Homo sapiens: one gene and its partners. The protein of the gene in region 1 purifies or fractionates together with the protein of each later gene. This does not show direct contact. Each region holds a gene or a part of one and is shown in the gene's direction. Other genes may lie near its edges. The genes, in order: CYREN, UTP11, XRCC4, DHRS11, PRRC2B and BDH2.

Region 1 (4,300 bases):
ACTAGTCTTACCAAGTCAAGCCAAGTCAAAACCAGAACAAAAGTGCCAATACAGGCACACCGTGGGTGATCAGGCCACGCTTCCACTCACGTGGAGTGGGGCAAGTTCCAAAGACTAGTCTTACCAAGTCAAGCCAAGTCAAAACCAGAACAAAGATGTCAATACAGGCACACCGTGGGTGATCAGGCCATGCTTCCACTCACATGGAGTGGGGCAAGTTCCAAAAACTAGTCTTGACAAGCTTCAGATGTCTGGACTTCAAGTGCCAGTTCCTTCCCGGTGTTCAGCCAGTGTTAATCCTTCTCGGGAGCCTGCTATGCGCTGCTCTGGCAAGGCATTCCACCGGGGCCATTTCCTACCCGGGAGCGCTCTTTGGATTGCGTCAGTCAGGCTGGCCGGAGTCCTCTGCAGGGACGCTCCACAGGGCTTGTCAGTCACCTCGCTTCCTGGTCAGGGAACCAAGGACTGTAGCAGGACAAGCCACAGACAAAACCTCTCAGACACGGAGCTGTAGAAGAAAGGGCTTTATTCAGCTGGGAGCATTGGCAAGCTACTGCCTTAAAATCCGAGCTCCCCGAGTGCACAATTTCTGTCGCTTTTAAGAGCTCACAACACTAAAATTTCACATGAAAGGGTCGTGATTGATTTGAGCAAGCAAGGGGTACGTGACAGGGGCTGCATGCACCGATGGTCAGGGAGAAACAGAACAGGGCAGGGAGTTTCACAATGTTCTTCTATAGAATGTCTGGAATCTATGAATAACATCGGTTTCTAAGTCATGAGTTGATTTTTAACTACTAGGTTTAGGCCAGGCAGGCCCAGGTCCAGTTTTGGGCCTGGCGCTGGGCTGCCTGTCTTTGATTTCACTTCCTTTTTTTTTTAAAAAAAAAAAAAAAAACAGGTACTGAGTATAAAACAATATGAGAGGGTCTCTCTCTTCCCTCGCTTTAACTTTCGGAGGGCTGAAATTCTTTCTAGCCTTGGTTAATACAGCAATTCATTCCATTCTAGCTATTGTTATTTCTCTTACTATAATTTTACTATTAGTACTTACGCTATTCTATTATTTTCTTAATTTTCCACTTAATTAGGATAACAAACCGAGGCCGGGCTCCCATCCTCCTCAAGCACACGAGGGGGGCCTGGCCCAGCAGGGAGCTTCGCCTGGTTTCTGAGGGAATTCCCGGCGGGCCTTTCCAAAACATGCCCGTTCCCTTCCGCTAACTTCAGGGGCCAAGAATTGAACTTTCACCCTCCTCAAGCCGGTGGCGCTGCCTCGCTGGCGTTCCCAGCGCGCAGCCAACCGGATGCCAGCCGGCGGCATTACCACTGCCAGCATGGGGCGCCCGCGGACCTCCGACTGAGGCAGCTGCCGGGAGCCGGAAGTGTCCCGGGCGCCGGGACTGCGAGGGGGCCGGGAGTTCCCCAAGACCGGAAGTGTCCCGAGGCCGGGAGCCCGCGGGACCCCGGAGCGCGCGGGGCCGGAAGAGGCGGGCGGCCAGTGGAGGTCCGCAGAGTTTGGGCGCCAGGCGAGACGGCAGGGCTTAAAGTTCCGGGTGAGGCGTGGGTCCCACAACCGCTTGGAATTTGCCTCCCGGCTCCGCTCTGGAAGCTAAGAAGGGGCACGAGAGCCGGAGACGGGAACCTGAGAGCAGGGAAGCCAGTAGCCGGCCGGAGGAGCGCGCGGCCGCTCCAGTCGGAAGGAGCCGTTGCAGCCCTGCCCGGCGTGTGGCGGGGTCAGCGAGGCCCCTGCGGTGCTTCGCCCGCGCCTTCCGCTCCGCACTCACCCGCCCTCTGGGCCTCCCACAGGTCGGCGCCGCCAGCGGCGGGTACCGGCCCGCAGAGGGAGGGCGGGCTGTGAACTGGCAGCACATCGCGTTCCCGCGGGGCCCCCATTCTGCCCAGGCAGGGAGCGGCTGGGATGGGACTGAGGTCGGTCCGCGAGCGCGGTGCCCCAGAGACCCGGCTTCTGGAAGTTGCCGCGGCCTGCTCTTGGGGCCCAGAAGTAGGGCGGGGAGGCGCGGGGTCTGGAGTCTGCAGGACCTGGCTGCGAATCCAACCAGCTGATTTCAAACTTTTCTGTGATCTTCTGCAAGTTAACTAAGTCTCAGTTCCTCGTTTGCGAAATGTACTTAATAGGCACCCCAGGGTGAACTAAATTTGTCCGCACAGACTGCAGCATTGCGCTTGGGAGGCGCCTTAGGGGGTAGGAGTCACTAATATCACTGAGTTTTGACAGAAATGAAGGTGCATTGGCAAAGGTGTGCCCCATGGCCGGGCAGGTTAGGAGGAGGGCCTGGTAATATTTTTTCTTAAATTGTAAACAGCCATCTGGATGAGCAATGCATTATCAAATTATGATTCAGAGAGGACTATCGCTGACTACTCTTTTTTTTGGGCAAACCTCCGCTTCAGGAGCTTCTGGCTTGATTCCTAAGTGGAAGGTAGAGACCTAGGCCCTCTGAGTCACAACTCCATCTCTCTGGGTGAGGACTGAGCTCCAGGACTGCTGAGTGGAGGCAGAACAATTGGGATAGGGAAAAGAGAGGCCAAACTAGATCAGAGGCTGGCGTGGGCTTCAGAATCTACAGACTGGCACAGTTAATGCCTCCGGGCCCCTATTGCTGCTTCAAGTTTGACCAATCAGAAGTATCTTTAGCTTAAGGGCGGCGTGTTGGCCAATGAGACTTTATTGTGAAATAAAATGCCCTCAGTTTCATTTAACTGAGCCACCATAGAAGAGTAGAGAAATCGAGTTGGCCAGATGAGGGAGAGGCCATTAAGAGGTATTTTAGGGATTGAATGGGCTGGGCACCCAGAGGACAGTGGCATTTGGGGTGGTAATGAGAAGGAACATTAGGGGCCTCCGCCTCCTTCCGTTCCTCCTGTGCTGAGTCAGTCAGCACAGAGGCTGCAGGAGGTATCTCTGGTTGGCTTTGGCTGCCTGTAGGGGGCACCAGCTTTGGGGAGGTCAGAGGGCTCTCTCCTGAGCTGCTGTCCTGCCCACAATCACACCTGCCTGATGCCTGTGAATGGCCGTCTGAGTCTCTTGGGCCTTGGTCACTTCTGGCCTGCCCTGCACCGACCAGTAACTGTGCCTGATGACTGGAGGTATGGGAATTCACCGGACTTTATTGTTCTTTGTAGGAATCAAAGATCAACTCCCACTGAGGACAAATGGACCTGTAATTCCGGGTGTGACGAGAGAACGAGATTTACCTTCCTGAATTAAAAAACAGGTCATTAAGCTTGGGCCCTGACTCTTCTTTGTGAGAAGGTACAGAGATGGAAACCTTACAATCCGAGACTAAAACGAGGGTCCTTCCCTCATGGCTGACAGCCCAGGTGGCTACAAAGAATGTGGCACCAATGAAGGCCCCCAAGAGGATGAGAATGGCAGCAGTGCCAGTGGCAGCAGCAAGGTGCGACAGCTCTGGTCAGAAGACTCCTGCGAATCTGGCAAGTGGAGCAGGGGCCTCCATGACCTGGGCCAGGTCTTCCAGCCTAGGCAGAACAGCAAGATGGGCGGGTGTTTCAGTCTGATCATCTCTTGAGCTTTTAGAAGGTGGAGGGGCTGTGGGCGGGAGGCAAAGCGGGTTAACCCTCGAGGACAGGCACCCACTTCTGCCTCTGCACTGGTGAGTGCCCTGCCCTCAGCACACACAGAGTGGGTTCTCCATGTCAGCCAGTCTCTGATGCCAGTTGTCCAGAATGCCAGTCTCTTCCTTTACAACAAACATGGTAACATCAGATGGGCAAGATCAGTGGAAGGGTCTGTTCTGAGTGGTGCCTGCCCCTGTGGACAGACCTTTAGGGATGGACAGATGAGCAGCAGCTGCAGGGCCAGCAAGAGCTAAGGAGCTGGGGAGTGAGTTAGTTGAATGACGGTAATTGCCGGGGGGGGGCGGGGGGGGGGTGGTGAGTCTCCAGGCTGCACTGTGAAGTGGGCGGGGCCCCAGCACTCGGTGTTTCCCTCTCTGGCTCCTCCTCCTCTAAGGTTTCCTGACTGACAGCCTTCCCTTGTGACTGCTGCCGTCTTTCCCTAAGTCTGGTCCTGCTTTCAGGTTCCTCTCAGTACAGCCTCAGCCCGAGGTTCCCTTCCTCTTGCATCCATGTGTGTGTTTCAGAGGCGGCCATCCTTCCCTACTTCCAGATCCTTGTAGGGCAGTTGGTGGAGGGTGGGAGGCACCCCGGTGTTGCCTCCATGAAGCCCTGTGCCAGTCACTGGGCTGCAAGGCTGAGGAAATTGTGTCCGTGTCAGAAAGCTCCTCAGCTCAGAGGTGCTGGTACCTCCTGCGTG
Region 2 (3,500 bases), on another chromosome or scaffold:
AGTACCACAAGTATAATAATAATAGTAAACTCATGCTGGAAAGCTGCTATGTGTCAAGCCATGTGCAGGCATTACCATTAATAGAAGCTCCTTGAATCCTCAGTATAACCCGGAGAAGCAGGTACTATTTTCATGTTACAGTCAGGAAATAGCAGCTCAGAGAAGTTAAGTGACATGCCCAAGGTCACAGATTGTTCAGAGGTAAAGCTTGGATTTGAACCCACATCTCCAGACTCTAAATTTAGCTCCCTTACCACAGTTGCCTCCCTGTTACTATGTTTTCCCTTTGTAGTATTTTATAAACCCTTGGATTAAGTTGGTAGTAATTTTAGTACAACTGGCAACTGCTTGCTTAGTGCCGAGTCATTGTTGCCTCTCTCTGTCCTTAATAGGCCAAGAAACCTACTACAGCAGTGCTTGTGACCTGTCTGGTGCTGGCAGGGTCCCTCTCATCCTTGGGCAGAGCCCAGTTGTGGGGAGGGGAGGGAACAGGGTCATGGGTTAGCTCCAAGGACTGGATTTACTGAGCACTCCAGAGACTCCTGTGCCTGTTAGATGTCGTGTTGATTTGGATATGTGTTTGCGGAGGAAACTAAGCACTGTTGTTCTTTCTTTTGTCTTCTAGCCTGGCTTTCGAAAACATCTGGGCCTGCTGGAGAAAAAGAAAGATTACAAACTTCGTGCAGAGTGAGTTCAGTCTTTCTGGTAGAGGCGCTGCCAAGAAAGCTTACAACCTCCTTGCACTGCAGCTGAATTGCCTGAGTGTCCAACAGGGGATAATTTCCTGCCATTGATAAAATGGCCAAAGCTCTGGCAGCCTGTCAGATAATTTTTTCTGTGATCCTAAATTTCTCTCTTTGTTTAGGCAGATCATTATTTATTTAACTGTAGTTGCATTGTGAATTATTTGTATTATGTTGTTCCAGATCATTTTCTCATAGTGGCTTTGATTTGGCTCTGCCTTGGTGTTTGAGCCCAAAGTTGAATCTTTTTCTCTTTGTTTTCTTGAAGTGCAGGATATAATCTGAAATTCCATTTGTTGAGTCTCTTACATCACCATGTGTGTGATGTGGAATGAAGAGATGTGAAAGATGGATTCATGAGACCAAGCGTGGGTGATAATGAACTCTGAAAACATTTTATAAAACAATTATCCCCATTCTTGTTCTCTGTTAGCACTTTGTTTGCAAAATACTTCTTAATTATTTGTTAGCGATACATGTCAGCTGAGGTCCTTTTTATGCCCCTGGTCTAGATGGTGGTGATGGATTAAATGGGTTTCTGTAGGTCCCAGAGATTTTAAGGCTAATGATAATTAAGTATTGTTATTGGGCCAGGCAGTGTTCTAGGATATTTACCGTTTTTACACTGATTTGTCCCTCCCAACAACCTTCTGGGATGGGTTACTATTACCGTATTCATTTTACAAATGAAATTGGGATTCAGGATGGTTAAATAACTTATCCAAGGTTACTTAGCCAGAAGTTGTCAAGTCCAGATTTGAACCCATGCTGTCTGGCTCCAGAGTCCATGATTCTAGTCATTGCGCTATACTGTACTGTGTAGTTTCTGAATTACATATGGTCATTTGGTGCCCAAGCTTGCACCATATCCTAAGGAGTTTTAATTTGTACTTTGTTTGGTGTCTCCCTGTAATGATATAAATGGCACTGAAACATATATAGGCTGGGGACAGTTAATTTCAGGTTCCACTGGAATAGGAACTGTTGATTAGACTGTGGACCCTGCGAAGACATGAGCTCAGCTCAGTGACAGTGGAGTGTCCAGATCCAGTCAGTGCTTTTGGCTTTTTTGAGTTTCACTCTGTGTGACCTTTTAGATGCTTGTAAAGTTTGCTTATTGTGGGTTTTTGGTTTTTTAAAATTATCTATTTTTTTTTTTTTGCTATGAACCTCATTTAACCTGTCTTTTAGTGACTACCGTAAAAAACAAGAATACCTCAAAGCTCTTCGGAAGAAGGCTCTTGAAAAAAATCCAGATGAATTCTACTACAAAATGACTCGGGTTAAACTCCAGGTGGGTGCCCAATGGCTTGGTTGGTGTTTTGAGCTCCACACATTGGAAAATAAGGACAGGGAGGAGATGGAGAGGAAGAATCGTTGGCCTTAATTTAACCCTTCTCTGGTTACTCCAGGTGCTCTTGGTCAGTGTCCAAGGCAAACCCTCCACTTCCAGAGGAGCGTGCATTTTTACCTTTGAATCTGGGTTGTCTTATACCTGGAGCTGTTCTAGGACAGATGACTGGAGGTGCTACATTGAACGTACGCCTCAGGGGCCTGTGTCTAGGATTGCTGTTAGCATACAGCATTTGGTTGTCTTTTTGTTTTTTTTTTTGAGATGGACTCACTCTCTGTTGCCCAGGCTGGAGTGCAGTGGTGCGACCTCGGCTCCCTGCAACCTCTGCCTCCCGGGTTCAAGTGATTCTCGTGCCTCAGCCTCTCGAGTAGCTGAACTACAGGCACACACTACTGTGCCCGGCTAAGTTTTTGTATTTTTAGTAGAGACGGGGTTTCACCATGTTGGTCAGGCTGGTCTTGAACTCCTGACCTCAAGTGATCTGCCCATCTCGGTCTCCCAAAGTGCTGGGATTACAGGTGTGAGTGACCGCACTTGGCCTATGGTTGTCTTTGTTCTAGCCGTGCACTGTGCCAACAACTTATTAATGATTTTAATCTAATAGGGAATATATCTTTTAAATTTGGATTTTAGGATGGAGTACATATTATTAAGGAGACTAAGGAAGAAGTAACCCCAGAACAACTAAAGCTGATGAGAACTCAGGACGTCAAATATATAGAAATGAAGAGGGTTGCAGAAGCTAAGGTAATTCACTCTTTGTTCTGATTGGTTTTATTGGTTAAGAAGGGAAACTTAAATTCATCAATCTCAAGTTATTCATTAATTTCTTCTGGCATTTACAATCTCACTTGATTGTAATAATGATTTAGAAGTATAGTTAGCATGGTAGAGTGGAAAGAGTTCAGGTTTGGGAATGAGACAGACCTAGGGTTTGAGTTCTGGCACTGCCATAAATTACTAGCCCCATGACAATGGGCAAATTCAACTCCCTGAGGCTCTTCCCTCATTTCTGTCTCAGGCGACTGTTGCAGGGATTAAGTGCGTCTTGGGAAGTGCCTAGCCCAATACCTGATATTTGTTGGGATCCTTTCCTTTAAAAGAATAAAGCAAGTTCTTTGCTGGCTGGCAATAATGATGTGAAATGGTTTAAACTTTTGCAGTTTTTTTTTTTTTTTGGTACCCTAGAAGAATCTAATATAAAGTGAGACCATATTCTGTGTTCTAGAAAATCGAAAGACTAAAATCAGAGCTCCATCTGCTGGATTTCCAGGGGAAGCAACAGAACAAGCATGTGTTCTTTTTTGACACCAAAAAGGAAGGTATGAAATGTTTGAAGGTTTCTGGGACAGTCTACCATGCCAGTCTGTGTCATTTGGTGTTAGAAACCGACAGTGCCTTAA
Region 3 (3,500 bases), on another chromosome or scaffold:
TTTAAGATAAAAAGACACACTTGAAAACATTAGGTAAAGTAAATGTTTAACTTAAAGCTTTCTGAGAGCAGGAGTAACACTTATATTTGTTCTATTTTCCTAACACAGTGAGCTGTTCATAGTGTATAATCAACAAGTACAGTATTGATTAAATAAACAAAACTGTATGTTGAAGTATAAGATACAGATATTAGGTACTGTAAATGACCAGAGGAAATAAAAATTACAAATATGAAATGAAATAGGAACATGGAAAAAAAGTAAGTCCTTGTGGAAGGTTTAGAATTTAAACAGAGCTGTAACTAATGGCTATAATTTCATTAAGAACACCCAAGTTTCTAATTATTTGTTTCTCTCACTTTCCATTAAAACTTTAGATACAGGTTCTCTGAGTTGTTTACTTCAAATTATACCTCTAAGCGTGATTTCTTGGAGAAGGCATGTTCATGAAAAAAATATGATAAATATGCTAAGATATATGTATAAGGATACTAATTGTCTAGTTTATAAGGGCATTTAAAAATTGAACCAACCCAAACCTCTATCAGTGAACTAATAGTACATCAAAATTAAAATCAATGATGAATGTAGATCTAAATTTTTCAACATGAAAATACATCTCTAATATATTATAGAGTAAAAATATCAAGCTGCAAAACTATAAATGTGTAGAATGATCACATTTTTGTAAAAAAAAGGCTGTGAATGTACAAGTAATGCAAAATAGGATAGTAGACATTTGTATTCGTCTTTTTTCACACTGCTATAAAGACATGTCTGAGACTGGGTAATTTATAAAGAAAAGAGGTTTAATTGGCTCACAGTTCTGTAGGGTGTGCAGGCTTATGCTGCTGGGGAGGCCTCAGGAAACTTACAATCATGGTGGAAGGCAAAAGGGAAGCAGACACATCTTCACATGACTGGCAGGAGAGAGAGAGCAAAAGGGGAAGTGCTACACACTTTTAAACAATGAGATCTCATGAGAACTCACACACTATCGTGAGAACAGCAAGGGGGATGTCTGCCCCCATGATCCAGTCACTTCCCACCAGGCCACTCCTCCAACATTGGGGATTACACTTCAACATGAGATTTGGGTGCAGACACAAAGCCAAACCATATCATGCCATCCCTGGCCCCTCCCACATCCCCTTCTCACATTTCAAAACATGATCATGCATTGCCAAGAGTCCCCCAAAATCTTAACTCATTCCAGTGTTAACTCAAAAGTTCAAGTCCAAGGTCTCATGTGAGACAAGGCAAGTCTCTTCGACCTACGAGCCTATAAAATCAAAACCAAGCTAGTTTCTTCCAAGATACAATGGGATTACAAGCATTGGGTAAGTTCTCCTATTCTAAGTGAGAGAAATTGGCTAAAACAAAGGGGCTACAGGCCCCATGCAAGTCCGAAAACCAGCATGGCAGTCATTAAATCTAAAAGCTCCCAGATAATCTCCTTTGACTCCATGTCTCACATCCAGGGCACAGTGATGCAAGGGGTAGACTCCTAAGTCCTTGGGAAACTCTGCCCCTGTGGCTCTCCAGGGTACAGCCCCCATGGCTGCTTTCATAGGCTGGTATTGAGTGCCTGCAGCTTTTCCAGATGCATGGCGCAAGCTGATGATGGATCTGCCATTCTGTGGTCTGGAGGATGGTGGCTGTCTTCTCACAGTTCCATTAGGCAGTGTCCCTTTGAGGGCTCCAACCACACATTTTCTTTCTATCCACACTGCCCTAGTAGAGGTTCTCCAAGAGGACTCTACCCCTGCAGCAGACTTCTGCCTGGACATCCATGCATTTCCATACATCCACTGAAACCTAGGTGGAGGTTCTCAAGCCTCAGCTCTTGCACTCTGCACATCTGCAGGCTTAACACCACATGGAAGACACCAAGGCTTGAGGCTTGCACCCTCTGAAGCAATGGCCCAAGCTGCATGTTGGCCCCTTTTAGCCACAGCTGGAGCGGGAGCAGCCACAATGCAGGGTGCCATGTCCCAAGACTGCACAGTGTAGCAGGGCCCTTGGGCTGGCCCACAAAACCATTCTGCCCTCCTAGGCCTCCTGGCCTGTGATGGGAGGGGCTGCCATGAAGATCTCTGAAATGCCTTGGAGGCACTGTCTTGATTATTAACATTTGGCTCCTGTTTACTTGCGCAAATTTCTGCAGCCTTGAATTCCTCCCCAGAAAATGGGTTTTTCTTTTCTACCATATGGCTAGGCTGCAAAATTTTCAAACTTTAATATTCTGCTTTCCTTTTAAATATAAGTTCCAATTTCAGGTCATTTCTTTGTTCATACAGATGAGAGTAGGCTTTTAGAAGCAGCAGGCCACACCTTGAATGCTTTGCTGCTTAGAAATTTCTTCCACCAGAAAAGCATAGCAAGAGTGACCTCTACTCCAGTTCCCAATAACTTCCTTATCTCCATCTGAGACCACCTCAGCCTGGACTTTATTGTCCATATCACCATCAGCATTTTGGTCACAACAATTTAACAAGTCTCTAGGAAGTTCCAAACTTTCCCTCATCTTCCTATCTTCTTCCAACCCCTCCAAACTGTTCCAACCTCTACTTATTACCCAGTTCCAAAGTTGCTTCTATATTTTCAGATACCTTTATAGCAATGCCCCACTTCTCTGGTTACACACATACTATCACAAGAATAGCAAGGGAGAAGTCCACCCCCGTGATCCAATCACCTCCCAACAGGCCCCTCCTCCAACATTGAGGATTACAGTTCAAAAAGAGATTCAGGTGGGGACACAAAGCCAAACCATATCAACATTTTTGTGTTCTTTTTTATGCTTTTCAGAATTTACAAAAAGTCTAACAATAAACATTTACTACCTGTAAAAATAATAAAACTTTTTTAAGAGTTGTGGAGAGAGTTCTAAATTTACTCTATTGACTTGCCATAGATATAAAAGCTCAATGATCTCCATTCGGGACAACTTTTACTGAGTACCTGTTATGACTAGGCACTATGAACAGGGGTCAAAATCTATTTCTTAAGCCCCTCATGACATCAGAAGGAAATGTAAATTATAAGTGGAGCACCAGGAATCTATTTATCCTTCAGTCTGGTCACTTCAGAGTGGTCCTTTGGTCATATGCTGATTTTTTTAAAACAAAATTGATAGATCTCTGTGTTCTGGTTCACAGTATCTAAACAATGGACACAATTACAGAGATCTTTCCATGTCTGACTTTTTAAATATGATTTCAGCTTTTATTTTAGATACAGGGGGTACATGTGCGGGTTTGTTACAGGGGTGTATTGCATGATACTGAGGTTTAGGATAGGGATCTCATCACCCAAGTATTGAGCATAGTACCCAATAGGTAGTTTTTCAACCCATGACCCCTCCTTCCCTTCCCCATGTAGTAATCCCCAGTGTCTATTGTTTCCATCTTTATGTCCATGTATACCCAATGTTTAGCTCTCACTTATAAGTGAGAACACAGGTATTTGGTGTTCTGTTCCTGCATTAATTTGCTCTG
Region 4 (3,213 bases), on another chromosome or scaffold:
TATGAGTGTGACGGGGGTCGGGGTCTGAGGCTGGCTAGGGAGCCGTGGGAGTGAGCTGCTCACCCCAGTCAGACCCCTGTTGGGTTTCATAGGAGCTGGCTGCTGAATGTAAGAGTGCAGGCTACCCCGGGACTTTGATCCCCTACAGATGTGACCTATCAAATGAAGAGGACATCCTCTCCATGTTCTCAGCTATCCGTTCTCAGCACAGCGGTGTAGACATCTGCATCAACAATGCTGGCTTGGCCCGGCCTGACACCCTGCTCTCAGGCAGCACCAGTGGTTGGAAGGACATGTTCAATGTAAGAGCTCCAAGCCTCCATCTTCCAGGTGGAGGGTGGGGAGGAGAGAGGGGAGCCAGGGGTTTGTGAACCAGAGTGCTGCTGGGGACGGGACATCTAGGAAGAGGGAGCTTCGGGTTCCCACCTGGGGCATCTTGACTCTCTCTTGGCTTCTTGCCCTACCAGAGGGATAGAGAGTGGATGAATGGCCATATCAGCTCTTCTCTTCTTTGAGCCCCTGGAGGTAGTTCTTTTTTTTTTTTTTTTTTTTTTTTTTTGAGATAGAGTCTTGCTTTGTCACCCAGGCTGGAGTGCAGTGGCATGATCTCTGCTCACTGCAACTTCCGCTTCCCAGGTTCAAACGATTCTCCTGCTTGAGCCTCCTGAGTAGCTGGAATTACAGGCACCCATCATCAATGCCCATCTAATTTTTTTGTATTTTTAGTAGAGACAGGGTTTCACCTTGTTGGCCAGGCTGGTCTCAAACTCCTGATCTCAGGTGATCTGCCCATGTTGGCCTCCCAACGTGCTGGGATTACAGGCATGAGCCACCACGCCCGACCTGAAGGTAGTTCTTAAAGTCTAGAGTGATTTCCTTGTGTTAGAAGAAAGATTGTTAGGGGAGAGAACTGCTGCCTGTTGAATGTTTCCCACTTGTCAGTCCTGTGCCTGGGTGCTTGGGAACGTGATGTTATGGGAAGAAAAGGAAGAGAGAGACAAGTGATGATATTCTTACCTAGCCTCACTAGTAACTATGTGACTTTAGGCAGGTTGGTTACCTTCCTTGAGCTTCAGTCTTGTCACAATTAATTGGGATGAACACACCTCTATCATCAATATCTGGGGTCACAGCTCCAATGTCCCCTGGGGCCAGGTAGGTACATAAAGGAGTGAGGGAGGTTAGGAGGGGTCTGTGGTGTGTGAGGAAGCACACAGCCACTGCTCAAATCCTGCATAGTTGCTCTATGGTGGTGTGGGCCCAGTGTGGCCTGATTTGATGAAATTTTTTTTTTTTTTGAGGCGAAGTCTTGCTCTGTAGTTACCAGGCTGGAGTGCAGTGGCGTGATCTTGGCTCACTGCAACCTCCGCCTTCTGGGTTCAAGCTATTCTCCTGCCTCAGCCTCCTGAGTAGCTGGGACTACAGGCGGGCACCACCATGCCCAGCTAATTTTTTTTGTATTTAGTAGAGATGGGGTTTCATCATGTTGGCCAGGATGGTCTGTATCGCCTAACCTCGTGATCCGCCTGCCTTGGTCTCCCAGAGTGCTGGGATTACAGGTGTGAGCCACCACGCCCAGCTGATCTTATGATTTCTTTGAGAGAAGTGGGGAGTCTGATTTTATGTGACACCCCCCCACTCCCATTCACTAAAATGACAGCTCCATGAGGGCAAGTATTTTATCTGTTTTATTCTCTGGTATGGCTTGATCCCATAAGCACTGAAAAGATAGTTATTGAATAAATGAAACTTTCCAGTACATGTTGGAAGGGTTTTTAAAATGTTTTGAAACTGTGCACAGGCCAAACCCAACTTTCAGGACATGGGTTTTCAACTTCTGGATGGTATGATGGGGTGATAGTAGGGTATAAAAGTATCCTGAGAAGTTGAAAGCAGTGTGTGAATGGGGTGTTCTTTTCTCCCCACAATCCTTTCCCATCTGCTGACAGTAGACTTAGCACCTCACAGATGCTTGGGCCTGGAAATGAAGCCATGAAAATGAAGCCCTCAGCCTTCTTGGAGATCAGAGCCATGGTCCTCACCCACAGCACATGGGTCTCTAAACCTGGACCTCAACTCGCCCATCTGTAAAATGAGGGACTTACATTAAATTCCTACAGCTCCTTTCAGCTTGAACATTATCTGAGTCTATTAGGATCATCCTATGAGGCATCTTCTCTTTCCCTGCCCCTGATACCCTAGACCTGGGAGATTTACTCACCTGGTCCCAGGGGATCTATTTCTCCCACTCTACCTGCCAGGGGCTGAGTTCTCTGCCTCACAAGCCCACATTGCCAAGAAGATGAGAAACACGGCTGGAAACCTCCCTGTCCTGGCACCCATCTCTTCCTACTGCCATGAACACCAAGACAGGTTCACACCAAAGGTGTTCTGTTCCTCATGGCAGGCTCTGCCACCTGATTAAGAGAAACATCTAATCTCCTGCTGGTTCCCTCTCTTCTTAAGAGGAGAGGCCTGAGGACCTGCTGAAAGCTTTATCTCTGCTTGTCCTCCGGGTGAGGCTAATGAGTGGGGCCAACGGGTGGGGCAGTGTAGGCGCTTTACAGCAGACACGCCTTCAGACCTCTGTTCCCTGAAGGGTGGGGATGTGGGGGTCACCTCTGCCAGAGGGAGTAGGAGTGGCAAGTTACCTGACCCTCTAGAGTCTCCGTGCCTAGTCTTGTAGATGGAACCCACGTTAAAGGAAGGCATAGAAAGGAGGGTCAGGCCTTCTCTTCTCCACTCATCTCAAGGGAGGGGATGGGGAAGGAGCAGAGAGTAGCTGAGGAAGGTAGGGAGAGGCTAGGCTGTGTGCCGGAGGAGAGAGATTTGTAAGCCATTTTGGTAAGGATTTTGAGCAGTTTAGGAGGGAGCAGGGCCAGAGACTGTCACAGAGAAGAGAAGAGTAGGGTATTTGGGGGAAGAAATGGAAATGATTCCCTATGGAATTAGAGGGTCTGTGCTACTGTTCATAGAGGAGATGGCCAAGACAGAGTCTCCTGGGTCAGGAGTGGGTTTGAAGGGTTTCCATTCTTGTTTGCAGGAACTTGGGGGGTCAGCCAGGTGAGGAGCTACCTCTGTTATCAACTGGGGGTTGCGGCTTTAGGGAGAGGGGCATCTCGTGTAGAAGACAAGATGCTCTGTGCCTGTGGCTGGTCTCCGGGGGGACCTGGACACTGTTTTGGAATGCCACACTGCCCCCTTCCCCCCTAG
Region 5 (3,500 bases), on another chromosome or scaffold:
GGTCAGGAGATCGAGACCATCCTGGCTAACATGGTGAAACCCCGTCGCTCCTAAAAATACAACAACAACAAAAAATTAGCCGGGCGTGGTGGCGGGCACCTATAGTCCCAGCTATTCGGGAGGCTGAGGCAGGAGAATGGCGTGAACCCGGGAGGCAGAGCTTGGCAGTGAGTGGAGATCGCGCCACTGCACTCCAGCCTGGGCGACAGAGCAAGACTCCGTCTCCAAAAAAAAAAAAAAAAAAAAAGAAAGATATATTTTTTAATGTAAAAAAAGAGAAGCTACCAACTTTTAGAAATAGTATAAGTGAAAAGAAGCATGAGCATAGCGGAAATAACGACAGAGAATCCAGATTGGCAGGAGTGAGGGCTCTGCCCTGCTCACTCTCTCCTGTAATCCATGAGATGTTGAGAAACACGTTGGGTGAGGATGTGGAAAGTTGGGTAAGGCTGTCAGACCAGCTCTTCCACGTCAGAGCCGTTCACTGGGTGTCACGGGTAGGGGGCTGGGGTGGCGGGTGCAGGGGAGGCAGGGGAGTTGGATTTCTGCAAGCTGTGCCTGTGCTTGTTCTTTAAGAGCTCATAAACTCTCTAGACGGGTTGCTCTTTGATGCCCTGACTCTGTCTTCCTCCCCTGGCAGCTCTCCCTGTGCAGGCCCCAGCCAACGACTCCTGGAGGAAAGCTGTCACTGCCTTCAGCAGCACCGAGACTGGCTCTGCGGAGGTGAGTGTGGCCGCTGCCCACATGCTGCCCCTGGGATGAGTGTGTGAGTGTGTGCTCACCATCCACACGGCCAGCTTGCTGTGGCCCACCCAAGCCCCTGCCACAGCAGCTGAGCTTGGAATTAGGTTGTTTCCATGGGGCCAAGCTCATCAGTGGTTTTCCATCTTGATTTCTGGCCTGTGCATGGGGCGTGCATGAGCAGGAGAAAGAGAAAAGGGGTAACAAGGGAGGACCCAACGCTGGGTGGGAAGAGGGATTCAGGGCCTCCTCTGAACTGGTGTCAGCAGCCACGTAGTCTGGTTTGGGTCACAAGTGAGATGGGTTTGGCAGCCTCGGTCTGGGGCCCATAGAAGATCCTGTGGTCACGAGCTCTATCGGGGTTGGTGTGTTTGGCCACACGTAAGTTGTCAGGCATCCTCAGCAGGGCAGGATCAAGATCAGGACCAGACTTGGCAAGGGACAGGCAGCTGGGGTAGAAAAGTCTCTGTGCCACATGCAGTTTTACTCTCTGGATAATCGAGTTGGGAGTTTGAGGCTATAACCCATTTTGTGCTCTGCACAGCAGGGTTTTAAGAGCAGCCAGGGAGATAGTGGCGTTGACTTGAGTGCCGAGTCTCGGGAGTCGTCTGCGACCTCCTCGCAGCGCAGCTCCCCATATGGGACTCTGAAGCCAGAGGAGATGAGCGGGCCCGGCCTGGCGGAACCCAAGGCCGACAGCCACAAGGAGCAGGCTCCAAAGCCATCTGAGCAGAAGGTAACCTGGACGTTCCAGTCACAGTGGCCAGGGCCTGGGTGGAAGGGGCCATCGTCTCATCATCTTCCTCAATTCCTGGGACAGTAGAAGCTAGAGAGTGTGGTCATTCCAGTCTGTGTGTCTCCACCTCTCTGCTTTTTTATCAAGGATTCAGAACAAGGCTCTGGACAGAGCAAGGAGCACAGACCAGGACCCATCGGCAACGAGCGTTCTCTGAAAAACAGAAAGGGCTCGGAGGGGGCCGAGCGGCTGCAAGGGGCTGTCGTCCCGCCTGTTAACGGGGTGGAGATTCACGTGGACTCCGTGCTGCCTGTGCCACCCATTGAATTTGGAGTCAGTCCAAAAGTGAGGCTTTGATTTGTTTTCTTGCTTGCTTTTTTTACTTTTTATTTTGGTACTTGGAGAGGCTGGGGGCTCAGATGGGATTGTCTCCTAGAAGGAATAGAAGGATGGGAGCCAAGCAGTCTTCCAGCGGCTAGAGTGTTGGTGTGGAGTCCTGCACATGGCCAGTGCTCTGTTGAGTTGCTTTAAAGATTGCTTCACTGACACCAGACAGGCCAGTGATCTTCCCTGTTTCTGTCAGGCCACCCAAGGGACAGGGAGAAAGAAGTGAGGCTGGCGTCCTGTCTCCTGTGCCGTGGGGAAAATCTGGCCATCTCGCTCATATGTGGCTCCAGTGAATGCTGCTCAGTGGAGTTTTTGAGTCGGGGAAACTGCATCACGTTAATGTATGCCTCTGGGGAATGTAGGGCCAGGAGGATCTCAGTGGGCTGTGTGGCCTTTTTTATTTTTTCAGGACTCCGATTTCAGCTTGCCACCTGGTTCTGCCTCTGGTCCTACTGGGAGTCCAGTTGTTAAACTTCAGGATGCCTTGGCCAGTAATGTAAGTCCACACTTCCACTTTTGGCTCCACTCACTGCTTGGGGCTGGCAGGCCCTGGGTGAAGGAGACAGCACATGTATTTCAGGCTGACCTGGGCTGGCACGTGACTCAGTTGCTAGCAGCTCCATGTCCTTAAAAGGTGCTTAAATGTTCCTGCCCAGGTTTTGTGACCTTCCAGTGGGGATCATACAGTTCCTAAGGGCTGGTTTATTTGGCTCTCTTTGGTTCCATTGTCTCCTCTGTGCCAGGTGCGAGCCCAGACTCAGGCTGCCTTTTCTGTGGCCAGGGGTAAGGGGCACAGATTGAGTAGGAGAGCCCTCCTCAGGAGGCCCCATCTCACCATCCAAGGGTCCCTGCCGCCTGCAATCTAACTGTTGTGATCCAGAAGACCTGCTGGCGCTCTACCATGGGCTCAGGAGCTGGCAGTTGCATCTGTTGTGGCCACTCGGGGCTGCAGCTGAGGCTGTCGCAGTGACATCTGGTTCACTGCTCTGTCCTCACCACCTGCAGGGGTGGGTGCTAGTGCATATGCTGAATGAACGAGTATCATTTGGGCAGCGTTTCCCAGAGGATTCCAAGGAATGTGAGTGCTGTACAATATTCATAGGTGTTGAATGAAAACAATGTTTTGGAAGTGCTGGGCTCTACGAGGTTCTTTACTCGAGAGTCTGCGGTCTCTGTCACATGCAGATGGACACCGGGGATCTGCAGGAAGCGGGGGCACTGTTGCATTTCCAGCCTCTGTTACCAGAGCCCTCTTTTTCAGTTTGCTGAGGGGCACAGCCTTCCCTGTCTGGCCCAGGGCATCTCCAGGCCAGGTGGCAGGTGCCTTCTGAACCAGATGTTTGTGTGCGGGCTGCCAGTCCATATTTATACTGCCGGGACATGGCTCTCCCTGTCTGGAGGGCACTATGGAGTGTGGATATGGGGGTGGCTCTCTGCAGACTTGTGTGGAGGAAACTGATGGAGGCAGCCATCTCCAGGAGATCAGTCATGGTCCTGGCTGCCATCAGTTTCATCTGGGTGGTCTTGGGTACATGTGGCCAATACTGAAGATGCATTTGGACAATTCATAGACACGGAGCTGTAGGTGCTTTTGGGAAAAGCCATGGATGGGTTTGGGCAAGTCATAGATACATTT
Region 6 (3,500 bases), on another chromosome or scaffold:
CCTTAACCACAGATCTTTTGCTCTCGATGTGAGCCAGTGGTAAAATTAAATTAAAATGTGGGGTATTTTTGCCCTCCCTTTTATTCTTTCTAATGGACATGGAAATGAACATCAAACTGGGAGAAAGAACCATTTAACATTTAATTAATTTAAAATAGTGTATTGAGCACCGGTATGTGCTCTGGCCATAAAAGAATTCACAGTCCAAAACTAGGAGCAAGGCAGCAAACATCATCTTCTCCAGTGTGATGATATATAACAGAGGTTTGTACAAAGCGCTGTCAAAATACAGGGAAATAACTGCCTGTGAGTTTGTGGAATGCTTCACAAAGACAGTTGATCTGAGCCATCAGCAAGAAGTCAAGTTGAAGGACAAGGACAGCAGTACAAAATGTGGATTATGTCACAATCTGGCATAGTTGGATCTGTGAGTTTAAAATGAAATAGTTACTGCTGAGATACCATTTCTTCTCTTTGCAAGGATACACATATTCAACATACACAAGAGAGGAATGTAAAGAAGTGCCTAGGCCTCCTGTTTTATTGTTTTGTTTTGTTATTAATCTTCATTTTCTTTTGGAATCTGCCTAAGAGTTATGGCAACTGATGATGAGAAACTAAGACTACCAATGTTAAGTAAGTTCAGCATTTCAATTAAGTCTCAATTAAGTTGTGCCTATACTGATATTATTTCCCTAGATCCAGAAACTGACTCTATTGAAGGAAAAAAATCTGATATCAATCTTTTTAAAAGGGGAGGAATGTGGGAGAAAGCATGAAAATGGCTACTGGGAAAACTTATTTGTGTTACCTTTCTGAAGGAAAATACATTTTTTATTCCTTCAATTGTTGAACCTTTCCTCCACCCTCAGGAGTTGTGAACAGATGTGTGTACAGCACAACCAAGGCAGCCGTGATTGGCCTCACAAAATCTGTGGCTGCAGATTTCATCCAGCAGGGCATCAGGTGCAACTGTGTGTGCCCAGGTGAGTAAGGCACACCTGTTTTGTAAGCAAAGTTTTACTGAAACACTTCCACACCCAATTTGCTTATGTTATTGCCTATGGCTGTTTTCATGCTACAAAGGCAGAGTTTAGTATAATAGTTGCAACAGATAAAATGACTCTCAAAGCCATAAATATTTTTTGTCTGCCTCTTTACCAAGAAAGGTGTGCCGATCCCTCATACAAAGCAAAGAAGAAAAGCAGAACTTTCCTTTTCTTAATAACTATAGGGGTGTGTCTCATTTTCACAATAACCGTAGATGTGTTTATTAAATTGATATGTACTTTTACCTGGTTCTACCAATCTAAAAGGAACTTAAGGTATCTAATAAGGATTATAATATTCTTTAAAAAGAAATGATTGCATATCCAGGATCAAGGTTTCCCTTGGTAGTGCACAATTGATAATGGGGGGTGGTGTGTGAAAGGGAAACATTTCAATATGACCTGGGGACCTTTCAAACCTGAAGGGCATGCCAGAATTTAGGGAAGGAGTTCATGGAGAGAATTGTGTGGTTTAGAAAGACCCACAAGAGATTCTGATTGAATCTTCAGTTGAAACCCACTGACTTAAAGAGGGGAAACTAAACATCCCCCAAGCTACAGAATTTCAGCGATTGAGATGTTCTGTTTTATTTTTCTTGGAACAGAAATGTAAACGTAGGTAACGCTAAGAAAAAGAAGAATGCATGAGAGGTCATTTCATTGGGTTTTAATGTACATCCTGGCGATACTTGAGTCTAGCTATTCTTGGTGCCATTTACCCAGTGGAATAAGTGGTAAAATGATTTGGAAAATGTGGTTGTTTCAGCGACTGGACTTATCAGGAGATTGGAAAATATGTTATCAAACTCTTTGGAACAAGGAACTAGCTGTGACTCAGTGAACCAATCACAGAAGAAAACTTGAGGAGGACTGAGTATGTCTGAGATGCTGCTGATGGTTGTATAGTCACAAATCTCCAGCCAGACTTGTGTAGACCCTGGCATAGTATGTCTGTGCCATGGACACAGCTGAACCCAGTGACATTGGAATACTCTAAAGGCATGGGCTTGCTCTACAGTTCTTATTTAATAGCCATTAGTACCAGTCATATGTAAGATATGATGTTCATTTACCTCAGAGGGAGAAAGCTATTAAAGCTGTAAGATTCTGAAGGAGTGTTAGTGAAAGCTTGAGGTGCACACTGTTGGTAAAACTGTGGACTTTAAGGAGGCTATTGAGGAAAGTGAGGAAAATATTATTGAAAATTAGAAAAAAGAGTGTCTTTGTCATACAGTTTCAGAAAGTACATCAACACTGTTGCCTGTAGTGTGAAGGTAGAAGATGTTCCTAATGAACTGGGTGATCTAATTAAGGTGATTTCTACCCAGAGTCTTGAAAGTGCTGGCTGCTTATAGTAAAATGTGACAAGAGACAGATAACCAACCTAAAGAGGGGGTTCCAAAATGGAGTCAGGCTTTCTGATTTTGAAGATTTCCAGCTTCATCAGAAAAAAATAGCAAATGATGCTAAAATTAAGAAATGTTTTCTGAATAAAGATCAAATCTATGGCACTCTCAGGAACATGATCTAAGGGTGAAGTATGACTGTAAAACCATTTGTTACAACCTCAGAAAGATCACATTATTTGCCAGAGTACTCTTTAGTCTGAAAAAGGGCCCTCTAAAGAGAATGAACAGTTTATGTCCGTTAACAAAAAAGTCTGGGTAACGTGCTCTAGGAGACCATAAACTAAGTGGAATTTTAAAATGTTAGCGTTGTTCTTATTTTTCTTTTTTAAAGTAAAATAACTTTAAATTAGATTAAATTATATTTTTGATTAAAAACTTGAAACTGTGGTTAAAAGTAGGCATTTGAAACAATGAAAATAGGCAAGGTGATAAGAAAAATTTAGCGCCACCTGAATTACCAAGGACTATGGTAGCCATGGGATTGTCCCCAAAGATGCCACAGTGAACTTGACAGCAAAGAATGGTTTTGAGATCATTGAGGCAAACTGGCTCCTTAAGCTGGCAAAGTGCTTGTACGATTTTATCTACATCTCAGGGTTATTGTGAGGATTAGCTGAGATCATATGCATAAATGTATTTAAAATCCATAAAGCATCATATAAATGCAATGTGACTAAAATATATGTCCTTGAGAATGCTGGGTGATTCATCCAGAGTCCCTACATAGTGTCACGAAGAATCATAGTCTGTGTTTTTAAAATCATAGAAATGTTATTGAAGAAATTATAAGCCTATTAAATAAGAGGCCTCAGGCAGGCAGCTGTAAAGTTGTCATTTTAAGTCAAGGAGAAGAATCTCACTGATTGTCATATGGAAAGGAAGTTTAGTTATCGATTTCTTTTTCAGTGAAAGTGAGTAACCAAGCTGAATATCCCCCTTTGATTTAGGAACAGTTGATACGCCATCTCTACAAGAAAGAATACAAGCCAGAGGAAATCCTGAAGAGGTACATCTAGCATTTAAAATGTATTTAAACCTTTTG

Evidence for each region.
Region 2: the proteins of CYREN (region 1) and UTP11 purify together in Homo sapiens (affinity purification with mass spectrometry; one large-scale study listed by BioGRID and IntAct). This does not show direct contact.
Region 3: the proteins of CYREN (region 1) and XRCC4 purify together in Homo sapiens (affinity purification with western blotting, with the first as the bait; one study listed by BioGRID). This does not show direct contact.
Region 4: the proteins of CYREN (region 1) and DHRS11 purify together in Homo sapiens (affinity purification with mass spectrometry; one large-scale study listed by BioGRID and IntAct). This does not show direct contact.
Region 5: the proteins of CYREN (region 1) and PRRC2B purify together in Homo sapiens (affinity purification with mass spectrometry; one large-scale study listed by BioGRID and IntAct). This does not show direct contact.
Region 6: the proteins of CYREN (region 1) and BDH2 purify together in Homo sapiens (affinity purification with mass spectrometry; one large-scale study listed by BioGRID and IntAct). This does not show direct contact.

What each region holds. Positions count from the first base shown.
Region 1 is NC_000007.14:135,167,908-135,172,207, reverse strand, and holds the start of CYREN (cell cycle regulator of non-homologous end joining), read left to right. Parts: upstream 1-1,500; 5' UTR 1,501-1,556; exon of another isoform or gene 1,557-1,932; intron 1,933-2,733; exon of another isoform or gene 2,734-2,786; intron 2,787-3,147; 5' UTR 3,148-3,285; coding exon 3,286-3,422; coding exon of another isoform or gene 3,423-3,459; intron 3,460-4,300. UniProt on the Homo sapiens protein: Cell-cycle-specific regulator of classical non-homologous end joining (NHEJ) of DNA double-strand break (DSB) repair, which can act both as an activator or inhibitor of NHEJ, depending on the cell cycle phase.
Region 2 is NC_000001.11:38,015,734-38,019,233, forward strand, and holds part of UTP11 (probable U3 small nucleolar RNA-associated protein 11), read left to right. Parts: intron 1-625; coding exon 626-687; intron 688-1,934; coding exon 1,935-2,037; intron 2,038-2,730; coding exon 2,731-2,844; intron 2,845-3,325; coding exon 3,326-3,419; intron 3,420-3,500. UniProt on the Homo sapiens protein: Part of the small subunit (SSU) processome, first precursor of the small eukaryotic ribosomal subunit.
Region 3 is NC_000005.10:83,346,547-83,350,046, forward strand, and holds part of XRCC4 (DNA repair protein XRCC4), read left to right. Parts: intron 1-3,500.
Region 4 is NC_000017.11:36,594,879-36,598,091, forward strand, and holds part of DHRS11 (dehydrogenase/reductase SDR family member 11 precursor), read left to right. Parts: intron 1-92; coding exon 93-302; intron 303-308; exon of another isoform or gene 309-1,155; intron 1,156-1,952; exon of another isoform or gene 1,953-2,136; intron 2,137-3,213. UniProt on the Homo sapiens protein: Catalyzes the conversion of the 17-keto group of estrone, 4- and 5-androstenes and 5-alpha-androstanes into their 17-beta-hydroxyl metabolites and the conversion of the 3-keto group of 3-, 3,17- and 3,20- diketosteroids into their 3-hydroxyl metabolites.
Region 5 is NC_000009.12:131,481,086-131,484,585, forward strand, and holds part of PRRC2B (protein PRRC2B), read left to right. Parts: intron 1-640; coding exon 641-723; intron 724-1,285; coding exon 1,286-1,477; intron 1,478-1,624; coding exon 1,625-1,822; intron 1,823-2,273; coding exon 2,274-2,360; intron 2,361-3,500.
Region 6 is NC_000004.12:103,082,835-103,086,334, reverse strand, and holds part of BDH2 (dehydrogenase/reductase SDR family member 6), read left to right. Parts: exon of another isoform or gene 1-594; coding exon of another isoform or gene 595-636; exon of another isoform or gene 637-872; coding exon 873-986; intron 987-3,405; coding exon 3,406-3,464; intron 3,465-3,500. UniProt on the Homo sapiens protein: NAD(H)-dependent dehydrogenase/reductase with a preference for cyclic substrates. Catalyzes stereoselective conversion of 4-oxo-L-proline to cis-4-hydroxy-L-proline, likely a detoxification mechanism for ketoprolines.